Linked DNA regions of Homo sapiens: region 1 is linked to region 2. The links come from fine-mapping of genetic effects on gene expression. A gene starts in region 2. The other region holds a variant in brackets. All regions are shown on one strand. Distances are from middle to middle. Region 1 has its middle 15 kb from the start of LINC03049. Region 2 holds the start of UBA2 (ubiquitin like modifier activating enzyme 2).

What was found. PIP is the estimated chance that this variant, and not a neighbour inherited with it, causes the effect.
Region 1: its variant is the best candidate, but not a certain one, in a credible set for the expression of UBA2 in whole blood (INTERVAL, PIP 0.85).

The regions. Positions count from the first base shown.
Region 1 is chr19:34,873,446-34,878,824 of GRCh38, forward strand. No RefSeq gene overlaps it. Among named protein-coding and RNA genes, the nearest start is that of LINC03049, 15 kb to the left of the region's middle. The variant C/T (reference allele first, on the strand shown) is at 2,976.
Region 2 is chr19:34,425,217-34,430,595 of GRCh38, forward strand. It overlaps UBA2 (ubiquitin like modifier activating enzyme 2), which reads left to right and starts at 3,165. Exons shown (of 17, transcript NM_005499.3): 1 at 3,165-3,354; 2 at 5,360-5,379. The coding sequence starts at 3,217. PDCD2L (programmed cell death 2 like) reads left to right here. Exons shown (of 7, transcript NM_032346.2): 7 at 774-952. The coding sequence ends at 904. It overlaps LOC124904695 (a long non-coding RNA gene), which reads right to left and starts at 3,148. Exons shown (of 2, transcript XR_007067232.1): 1 at 2,906-3,148; 2 at 890-1,185. RefSeq lists silencers at 3,053-3,292, 3,323-3,432, 3,503-3,662.

The sequences.
Region 1 (5,379 bases), 450 kb after region 2:
CTGATCACAGGGGGTCCCTCAGAGCCTCTGGTGCAGGTCGTGAGTCACACACACTCCGCTCGCTGGCATTTCTGGACAGCCTCTAAAGCTCAAGCCCACTTAGGGTCATGTTCGCCAATGGAAAAAGGCGAGACTGCCAGAAGGGATGAGACTGGCTCCCCTAGGAATCAAGAACTCCCAAGAATTTGTTCCTTTAAGAGTGAGCAGAAAGTTGCTGGCAGAATTTGACAACTGAATTGTGGTAGGTAGAATGGAGCATGACCAGCCCTGGAGTCAACCAATATGGCTGCAAGTCCTGGAACTTCCCTGGCAGTGATGGGCTCAGAGGCCAAAAGATAGCATCCACCTGGCCTTGAGGCCTGATGCGGAGGATGCAGCTGGTAAGATGTTCAGGGGGCCCTGGTCAGGCCCACATCCCCCATACTTTCCTCCAGGACTCAAACTAAGGCCAAAGCCAGTTTTCTCTGACCGGCCTGTTGTGGTGTACACCTGTCCTTGCCTCCCCACTGACTTTTAGCTCCACATTTTGGGTGAGTCTTGCATGGGAAGTTAGTACAGGTGGGAGAAGGATGTGACCAGGATGCAAAGGTGACAGTCGGGGCTGGGAAAACATAACGATTTTAATGTTTCTAAAACGGAGCTGACAGACAATTCACAGGACGAGGAGGTTTCTTCACAGAAACCCAAACTCAGATGCTGCCCCTCTCTGGGTTCAGCCCCAGCATGCCCTCAAGCACCTCGCATCTCCTTCCTGCCCCAGCCCGGGCAGGCGCTCATTCTCCTGTTACTGGGTCATGAGGGAGCCGTCCTCATCCTAATCTGTCTGACATTAGCCCCGTCTCCACACTGGGCTGGTTCTCACTGAGGTCTGCACGGAATGACCAAGGAGAAGATTTCATCCTTGCAGATGAGGAGTGGGTGATCCTGGGGAATGGGAACCCTGCTGTGGGCCCAGGACTTTTGCAGGAGCCCTTTGGTCCTCCTAGTCAGACTTTCTGATTTAGTTTTCACCAGGCTGATTCCAGTAAAACAACTGCAACTCAACTCTCAGAGCCCAGGGACGGTGTCCTGTGTGTGGCGCGTGGGAGGCCCAGCAGGAGATCTTGGGACATGGTGAGGGGTTGTGACACGTGAGGCCATTGAGAACATGTGGACTGGAATTAGGCAGAGCCAGGATAGGTCTAGGCCCTGCCGCTGACTAGCTGTAGGATCATAGGTAAGCCGTTTTATCTTTCTGAAGCTCTGTCCTCATTTGTAAAATGAGGACCCAGCTAAATAACATACATGTCACCCCAGGATTCATCAGCCTTGGGAGGTTACAATGACATCAACAGCCATAGAAAGCCTTTCTCTGGCTCTGCCTTTATTGGAGCTGCAGAGTCTGCAGGCCCTGGAAGGCCTGGTTGAAAAGTGACTCTAGAAATGACCTGCATGAGCTCATCACAAGCCCTTTTAATTTAATCTCTTCGTAGCGTCTGTGATTTTCTGCTATTTTCCTGAGGAGGCTGAAATTTCTGCAAAGACGCTCTCCATAGATGCTGAGCATAGAGGCTTCGGTTGCTTCTGCATTCTACTACTGGGACCAGGACTCCCACCTAGTCTTGGCCCAGGAGGAAGGAAGAAAGAGAGTGGAGGGAGAAGCTAACGTAGAGGGAGTGTTGGTGTCAGGTACTTGTAGGATCTGCCACCTGGGGCAAATTACAAGATGCCACTGAGCCTACTTCCAAATGCATCGAACAGGGCCACTTTATCTCCCAGCAGGCCAGTCATGGGGCTAAGGTGTAGAGACTAGGTTAGGTGAGTTGTGTGTGACTGAAAGACAGAAACCAGGTTTCACCTGCACTTTTACAGAGAGTAGAGCAGTGCCAGGCTCCAGTGAGTATGGCCCACAAAAAAGTGGGAAAATAAGTAGTGTCTCTATTGTCTGAGTCTTGCTGGCATAATTAGGTCTCATGCAGAGAGTTAAACTTGGGACTTGGGGCTAAGAGGCCTGAGGCTTGAGTTCCGGCCCTCGTCTGACCTGCTGGACAAACCCAGGCATTGTGCTTCATTTGTTTACTCATTTTAAAGCTTGATTTTACATCTACCAAGTGCTGGGCACTCTGCTAGACTTAACATTAGATGTACATATTATACTGAAAGGTACAGCATTTTACTGAGAAGTACAACATGAAATTTGAACAGATGAAGAACTAAATTGCGCTCTTGTATGGCGTGAGTCCACCTTGTAGGGATGTTAACTCTTCCCAGCTCATCTTTGTTTCAAAGGAAATTAATCAAGTTTATCCAAAAGAATAAATGCTTGAAATCAGTCAAGAAAACTTAGTGTCTGGGATTTACATGAGGAAGAATTCAAAGGTTGCGTGGATTAGAAAGGGAGGCATCCAGAATGATGAGGAAATCAGGAGTAGATGAAAATATCTATTATTTGGCAACCCTAATAAGGTATAATAAATATTAAAGAAACAAGTGACACAGTTTTTACCTGTCAAATTTGAAAAATAAAAATATATTCTGAGCACATAATTTCATAAAGAAGAGTACATATATCTCCACACTCACATACTCTTGTGGGGATGAAAATAGATGTCGTCATTTAAAGGAATATTAAACTTTAAGAAAGTTTTGGCTGGACATGGTGGCTCACGCCTGTAATCCCAGCACTTTGGGAGGCCAAGACGGGCGGATCATGAGGTCAGGAGATTGAGACTATCCTGGCTAATATGGCGAAACCCCATCTCTACTAAAAATACAAAAAAAAAAAAAAAAAAAAAAAAAAGCTGGGCACGGTGGCGGGCGCCTGTAGTCCCAGCTACTCGGGAGGCTGAAGCAGGAGAATGGCGTGAACCCGGGAGGCGGAGCTTGCAGTGAGCCGAGATCGCCCCACTGCACTCCCGCCTGGGGGACAGAGCAAGACTCCGTCTCAAAAAAAAAAAAAAAAGAAAGAAAAAAGAAAAAAGAAAAGAAAGTTTTTA[C/T]CTTATCATTAAATAGTTATTTCATAAATACATCATTTCAAAAATTATCTCATAAATAAATCCTAAGAAAATAAACATAGCAAAATTAAAAGAAACCTACTTAAAAGTGAAATAATAAGAATGGTGGGACGTATTTGTAGTCATTGAAAATAATGCTTTTGAAGACCATTTAAAGATGTGAAACATGCTAATGTAAAATAAACATAAAATGTAAAAGACAAAGTATGAAACTTAATATTTATTTTAATTTAAAAATTAGAATACATATGTATTGACAAAGGTAAAACAGATGAAACTGTGAGATCATCTATGGTAGTGGGATTCTGGAAAATTGTTGTTTTCCTTTTTTTTCAACCTTTTTGTATTTTCTCAGTTTTAATTGAGCTTGTGTTACTTTTACAGTTTGAAAAGAAAAAGGGGGCGGGGAGAAAAAACCACCACCGGCAAGACAGTGGGAGGGAAAAAAATCAGTAATCTATTTTTATGCAGACACCAGGCATTTTCTGTTTGAGGTTAATTACCAAGTTTATTTAACTAGAATTCCATTCTAATCAAATGTTCATCTGTGAGAATGTCCTGATATATTTTCTTCTGTTTTAATCTTCTGCTAGTGACATATTATAACAATGTATGTAAGATACTGAACAAGAAAGAGAAAAAGGCAGTCCTTGGGTTTGGTGCACACGAACAAATGACAGTTAACAATTTAAACCAAATAGGCCGGGCGCGGCGACTCACGCCTGTAATCCCAGCACTTTGGGAGGCCGAGGCGGGCGGATCACAAGGTCAGGAGATCGAAACCATCCTGGCTGACACGGTGAAACCCCGTCTCTACTAAAAATACAAAAAAATGGCCGGGTGTGGTGGCGAGCACCTGCCTGTAGTCCCAGCTACTCGGGAGGCTGAGGCAGGAGAATGGCTTGAACCCGGGAGGCGGAGCTTGCAGTGAGCCGAGATCGCGCCACTGCACTCCAGCCTAGGCGACAGAGCAAGACTCCCTCTCAAAAAAAAAAAAAAAAAAAAAATTTAAAAACCAAATTAATTCAATAGGATTTTGTGCTTTGCGCTTCCCCTGGTCTCCACAGAACTGTGACACAGCGTACTGAGGAAACTCTTTGCCTTACACTAAACCTCACAGGTCCTGAACAATCAAGAGCTTTGAGAAGATACACAACTCTGACGGCTTCTGGAGAGAGCATGTCTCTCTTTCCCCTGGGCTCCATGCCAGCTTGCCAGAATTTTTACAATTTGTTTTCCTCATTTTTCTAATTATGTTTCCTCCTGAAAGTGATTATAGATAGAATTCATTTGTATTTGTGGAGACTTCTTTATCAGATCAGCAAGTTTTCCTTTTTTTACGAGTTAATACTTTCATCTTTAGGGTTCTCAGGGAATACACAGCATATGTCAAAACAAAAATGAGATGAAAATTCCTAGGTAATTTTTTTTTTACTTTTATTTTAAGTTCATGGGTACATATGCAGGTTTGTTACATACGTAAACTCGTGTCACGTGGGTCTGTTGTACAGATTATTTTGTCACCCAGGTACCAAGCCTAGTACCCAATTGTTACTTTTTCTAATCCTCTCCCTCCTGCCACCCTCCACCTTCCAATAGGCTCCAGTGTGTGTTATTCCCCTCTTTGTGTCCGTGTGTTCTCATCATTTAGCTACCACTTATAAGTAAGAGCATGCGGTATTTGGTTTTCTGTTCCTGCATTAGTTTGCTAAGGATAATGGCCTCCAGCTCCATCCATGTTCCCATAAAGGACACAATCTTATTCTTTTTTGATGACTGCGTGGTATCCCATATTTTCCATCATATGTATCACATTTTATTTATCCAGTCTGCCATCGATGGACATTTAGGTTGATTCCATTTCTTTACTACTGTGGAGTGCTGCAATGAATACATGTGTGCATGTGTCTTTATGGTAGAATGATTTATATCCCTTTGGGTAGATATCCTTACTGGGTTATTTATGCCTACCACCAGGCAAAAATAAAATAAAGAAAAGGGCTTCAGACGTTAAAGACTTATCAATAGACCTTTTTTATATGAATGTGTATGGCTGTGTGTGTGTCTCAATATACTGTTGCACTGGAGCTGCTGCTGGTTTTTTTAAATTCACAAGCCCCTTTCACATGAAAACAGTGTTATGGTTGGGTTTCCACAAAGATCTATTCATATCTGAAGTATATCTCTCTATTTTAAAAACGTTTTTATTGCTAAATAAGGCACATACGCCAAGAAGAGAAGGTGTTCACGTATATGAACACTTTAAGGAATAATAGACAATGAACACCTGTGAATCCACCATGCAGGTGAGCTCACGGTGCAGAGCCCCCTGGATCCCTCCTCACCTGCATGCAGTCCTGGTCCACCCTCCTGCCTCTATTCTGCA
Region 2 (5,379 bases):
CTCTTAGGGTTTATTTTATATTTTTTGCCTGAATCCTTATCCTTTCTCGGCAGTAGTGTGTCCTATGATATATATTTCTCTCTTCTTTTTTTTTTTTTTTTTAAGACAGGGTCTCGCTCTATCACCCGGGCCAGAGTACGGTGGTGCAATCATAGCTTATTGCAGCCTTTATCTCCTGGGCTCAAGTGATCCTTCTGCCTTAGTCTCCTCTGAGTAGCTGGGACTACAGGTGTGCACCGTTACACCCAGTGAATTTTTTTTTTTTTAGTAAAGTCTCACTGTGTTGCCCAGGCTATATGAGATATATATATATTTTGTTTGTTTGTTTGTTTGTTTTGTTTTTTGTAGAGACAGGTGTCTCACTATGTTGCCTAGGCTGGGCTCAAGCTGTCCTTCCCCGTCGGCCTCCCAAAGTGCAGGGATCACAGTTGTGAGCCACCGCACCTAGCCAAAAGCTATGTATATCACATGAACCATGTAGATTAATATAGATTTTCAACATCAGATAGCTAGACAGTTATAATGAACACTTGCTGAAATTTTTGTTTATTTTTAAAGTATATTTTCCTGCCACTTTAAATTAATTTTGCTTTTTTGTTATCAATATTCACTTATTATAGGATAGACTGTGATTCTGTTATAGCTGAAAGCAGTAAGCACTGTTTTTGCTTTACCTAATTACTTTTTCAGCTTATAAGGTAAAATCATTCCTTTTAGTAACATCAGTCTCATAACTCTTTTTGCTGGAAGCCTGAATATGTGGTATTTTTCAGGTCTTTCTGTGGAATTTGGAACAATTCTAGTTTACACATGTGAGAAGAGTTGCTGGCCCCCAAATCATCAGACTCCCATGGAAGAATTTTGTATTATACAAGAAGACCCAGATGAATTATTGTTTAAGTAGAGCATTTCCTTTTATTAATATAAATTAAAACAAATGTTTACATCCAAATATGTTTGTATGTACCTTATTTTAACTCACAAGTTATTAACCTCTGTTTTTCTGAGTTGCCTTTTTGCCTTTGGGTGCTGGTGCCGGGGCCGGGGCCGGGCCAGGACCTCCTGACTGTGGGTTGGTCTGCCCTTCCAGGGTCCAGGGCCAGCTGTCACAGTGGCAGCTAGGAAGGTAGCTCCTCTCTAGTCCAGAGGGCTGGTGTTGTCTGCACAGCCGTTCTGGTGGGCATTCTAGGGGGGAGGAGAGCAGCGAAAGAGCCAAGAGCAGTGGTCAGCCTCTTGTGTACACCTCTGACACGTGCACTCCAGTGCTTCCTATGCTGTTTCTGGCACCTGATCAAGCCACTGAACCTGCTCTAGCTGCTGGAGGTTTTTGCTCTGTGACCCTGGCTGTTTAGACCTGCCCATGTTCATCAGCCCAGGTCCCCGCCCTCACCCACTCCCATCTTCTGCTCCTGCAGTATCCCAGGAAGGGGTCTTTACTCCGTTCTGGAGACTGTCCCTTTATCCAGCTGCCTTCCAGTCTTCCCCTTTCTTTATTTTTAACATGATCAACCCCTTCCCTTCAGCCCCATAACAGCAGTATAAAAACACTCCCAGCCATGTTCAGACATGCTCTGCCTACGTAGATGAGGATAATGAGGCCTAGGTGATCATGGGGTGGGCTTGTTTCTTGCATTTAACATTATATTTGGAGCATTTTCCCATTAATATTTTTCCCACAACATAATTTATAATTGCTCTATTTTTTAAATATACATCAAAAGCTTTATACAATTTTTAGCCACTTGTATTTTCCAATTTTTATTCCCATGATGGCCATCCCTGTAACTAAATTTATATATATTTTAAATCAATGATAACTGCTACAGGACAGTTTCCTAGAATTGGAATGAATGAGTCAAAAGTTGTGCACAATTTTAGGGTTTTTTTTTCTTTTTTTTCGAGACAGGGTCTTGCTCTGTCTCTCAGGCTGGAGTGCAGTGGTAAGGGCATAGCTCACTGCAGCCTCGACCTCTCAGGCTTAAGTGATCCTCCTGCCTCAGCCTCCTGAGTAGCTGGGACTACAGGTGCAAGCCACCACGCCCTCTAGAGAAGCTTTGCTTTGGAATCTTTACCTGGAGTGTGTTGGAGTGCTTGTTTCCCAATCCCTTGATAAGTGTTACTTATTTTTTCTTTCTACCAGTTTAGTAGGTGAAAAACTTTTTTTTTTTTTTGAGACAGAGTCTCGCTGTATTGCTCAGGCTGGAGTGCAGTGGTGCAACCTCCGCCTCCTGGGTTCAAGCAATTCTCCTGCCTCAGCCTCCTGAGTAGCTGGGGCTACAGGCTTGTGCCACCACCCCCAGCTGTTTCGGTGTTTTTTTTTGTTTGTTTGTTTGTTTGTTTTTTTGAGACGGAGTCTGTTGCCCAGGCTGGAGTGCAGTGGCGCGATCTCGGCTCACTGCAACCTCTGCCTCCTGGGTTCAAACGATTCTCCTGCCTCAGCCTCCCGAGTAGCTGGGATTACAGGCGCACGCCACCACGCCCGGCTAATTTTTGTATTTTTAGTAGAGATGGGGGTTTCACCATGTTAGTCAGGCTGGTTTCAGAACTCCTGACCTCGTGATCCACCCGCCTCGGCCTCCCAAAGTGCTGGGATTACAGGCGTAAGCCACCGCGCCCGGCAGGTGAAAATCTTACCATTTTGCATGGTTTACATTTTTTTCTTTTTTGAGACGGAGTCTTGCTCTGTTACCCAGCCTGGAGTGAAGTGGTGCGATCTTGGTTCACTGCAACCTCCACCTCCAGGGTTCAAGCGATTCTTTTATGGTTTACATTTTAATACGCTTATTGATCATATTGTCCAATTTTTTGTGAGTTTCCTGTTCACATCCTTTGCCTATATTTTTTTGGGGGTGACACTTGTTAATTTGTAAGAGCTCTTTACGTATAGGGACATCAGTTTTCTAACCTGTAAGGAAGTCTTGGCTGGGAGTTGAAACCCCAGGCTAGAAGGCGACCCTTAGACTTTTTAGGTCTGATGGCGGGCCTATGCTGGTGTGGGAATAACACCGCCGGTCTCAGCTGGAGGTCGCCAGCCCTTTGCAAGAGCCTGCCGGTCCCCGCGGGCTGCAGCACACCCCGGCGCGATGTGCCCTGCCTGTGTCTGCCGGAGGCTGTAGTGCGCAGGAGCGGAAACCAGGCCGCCCTTCCCCCACCCGCTTCCGGCCGCGGCTCGGTTCTCCCGCCTCCGCCTCCGCCGCGGCTCGTGGTTGTCCCGCCATGGCACTGTCGCGGGGGCTGCCCCGGGAGCTGGCTGAGGCGGTGGCCGGGGGCCGGGTGCTGGTGGTGGGGGCGGGCGGCATCGGCTGCGAGCTCCTCAAGAATCTCGTGCTCACCGGTTTCTCCCACATCGACCTGGTGAGGGCCGGGCGCGCGCGCGTGAATGGCGGGCTGTGGTGCGGGGGCTGGGATTCGGGGGTTCCGGGGCTCCAGGGGCTCTGAGGCTCAGGGCCCGGAGCCCGGGACCGGAGTTGCGGAGCGGGGGCAGGCTGAGAGGCTCGGGTTGTGCCCCCCCCGCGGGAGGAGACTGTTCTTTGGGCACGGGGCGGGCCTCCGCTCGCTGGGCCGGCTCCGGACGCCGAGGAGGCCGCGGGCCCCCGCCTCCCCGGCAGCGCCAATGTGTGGCGCTTCGTGGGCGTGAAGCCGCCTCTTATCCTCCCTTCAAAACAAATTCCCGGCTGTTAGGAGATGCGGGAGAGGATTGAGTCCCTCGCGGATGTTGTGACTTTAATTTTGAGGTCCCTGTCGTAACTCCGAAGTAACGACGCGGGGCGGAGGATGGCAATGATAGCGACCAACGCGTCCCGAGCGCTGGTCACGAGCGGGTTTACACACGGAACGCGCACCATCTTCATACCACCCGAGGAGTGCAAACGCTATTTCCACCCTGCTTTATTTTTAACAGATGAGGAAAGGGAGACGCAATGGGGTTGAGTAACTTACCCTGGGTCACGGAGCGAGTGGCAGGGCTCCCGCAGGCTGCGTGACTGTCATTGCTCTCACAGTAGACGGTACACTCGCTTGTTTCATTAAAGACGTTAGGACTGTGCCTTTTGCATTGGTGTACGTTGACAAGCCAGTGCTATTTTGAATCGTTATTTCTACTAATGCAAACTTTTTAGAGATTGGAGATGTTACTGGCCCTTCGGTGTGAGTTTAAAGTGTCTTAAGGGCTAGTGGAAACATGGAATGAACAAAAAAGTACGGGTGGCCGACTGAGTCATTGTTTCTTTCCTTTATGTATTATATATTTAAGCAAAAATTAGATAAAACTTAAAACATGATACTTTTTTAACCATGTGTAAAAGTTTCCTTTCACAGTTCTCAGGTTAATAGTAAATGAAATTGTGTATGGATGAAGGCTTGAATTAAGGGAGGCAGCAAAAATTCAATAAACGTTTGCCATGTATCATTTAAGAAAAAGAACAGAACCTGGGCAACATAGAGAAACCCCGTCTCTACAAAAAAAGAAAATTAGCGGGGCGTGGTGGTGTGCGCCTGTGGTCCCAGCTACCCGGGAGGCTGTGTCAGGAGGATCGCTTGAGCCTGGGAGGTCGAGGCTGCAGTGAGCTGTGTTTGCACCACTGCACTCCAGCCTGGGCAACAGAGGGAGACCCTGTCTCAAAAAACAAAGAAAAAGAACAGGGCATAGTTAAATTTAATATTTTGTACTTGAAAGAGTAATTCGATTGAAAGAGAAATACTTTAGTATTTTTTGAGACAGGGTCTGGCCCTGTCACCCTGGCTAGAGTGCAGTGGCCCGATCTCGGCTCACTGCAACCTCCGCCTCCCAGGCTCCAGTGATCCTCCACCTCAGCCTCCCGAGTAGCTGTGACTACAGGCATGTGCCACCTAATTTTATTTTTTCTATTTCTTGTAGCCACCAGGGTCTCACTATTTTGCTTAGGCTGGTCTTGAAGGTCTGGGCTCAAGCGATTCTCTCACTTTGTCCTCCCAAAGTGTTGGGATTACAGGTATGAGCCACCACTCCCGGTGTAGAGAAATATGTTAATATATTTTCAGTTAGTGTTTACCTCGACAGCACATATAGTTTTAATGAATTCACATATTTTTATGGCATCCAGGGAGTTTCCTGAAATATTTTCCAGGATGATTAAACAAACAAAATATACCATTCTTTCAAAGTATTTTTGAGAAGTTTATCTCTGACATTAAATCTAGATTCTTACATGCATTAAATTATTCTTTATCAGTTTAACAATTTTGGTATGGCGATTCGAAAAACGCTTTCTCCACTAATGTAGCAGATATCAAAAGTTCTGGATTACAGGTGCTGAGAGTAGTGATACAGCTCAAACATACGTAAACGTTTGTCATTTATCTGGGGTTTATGCATTTGTAGATTGATCTGGATACTATTGA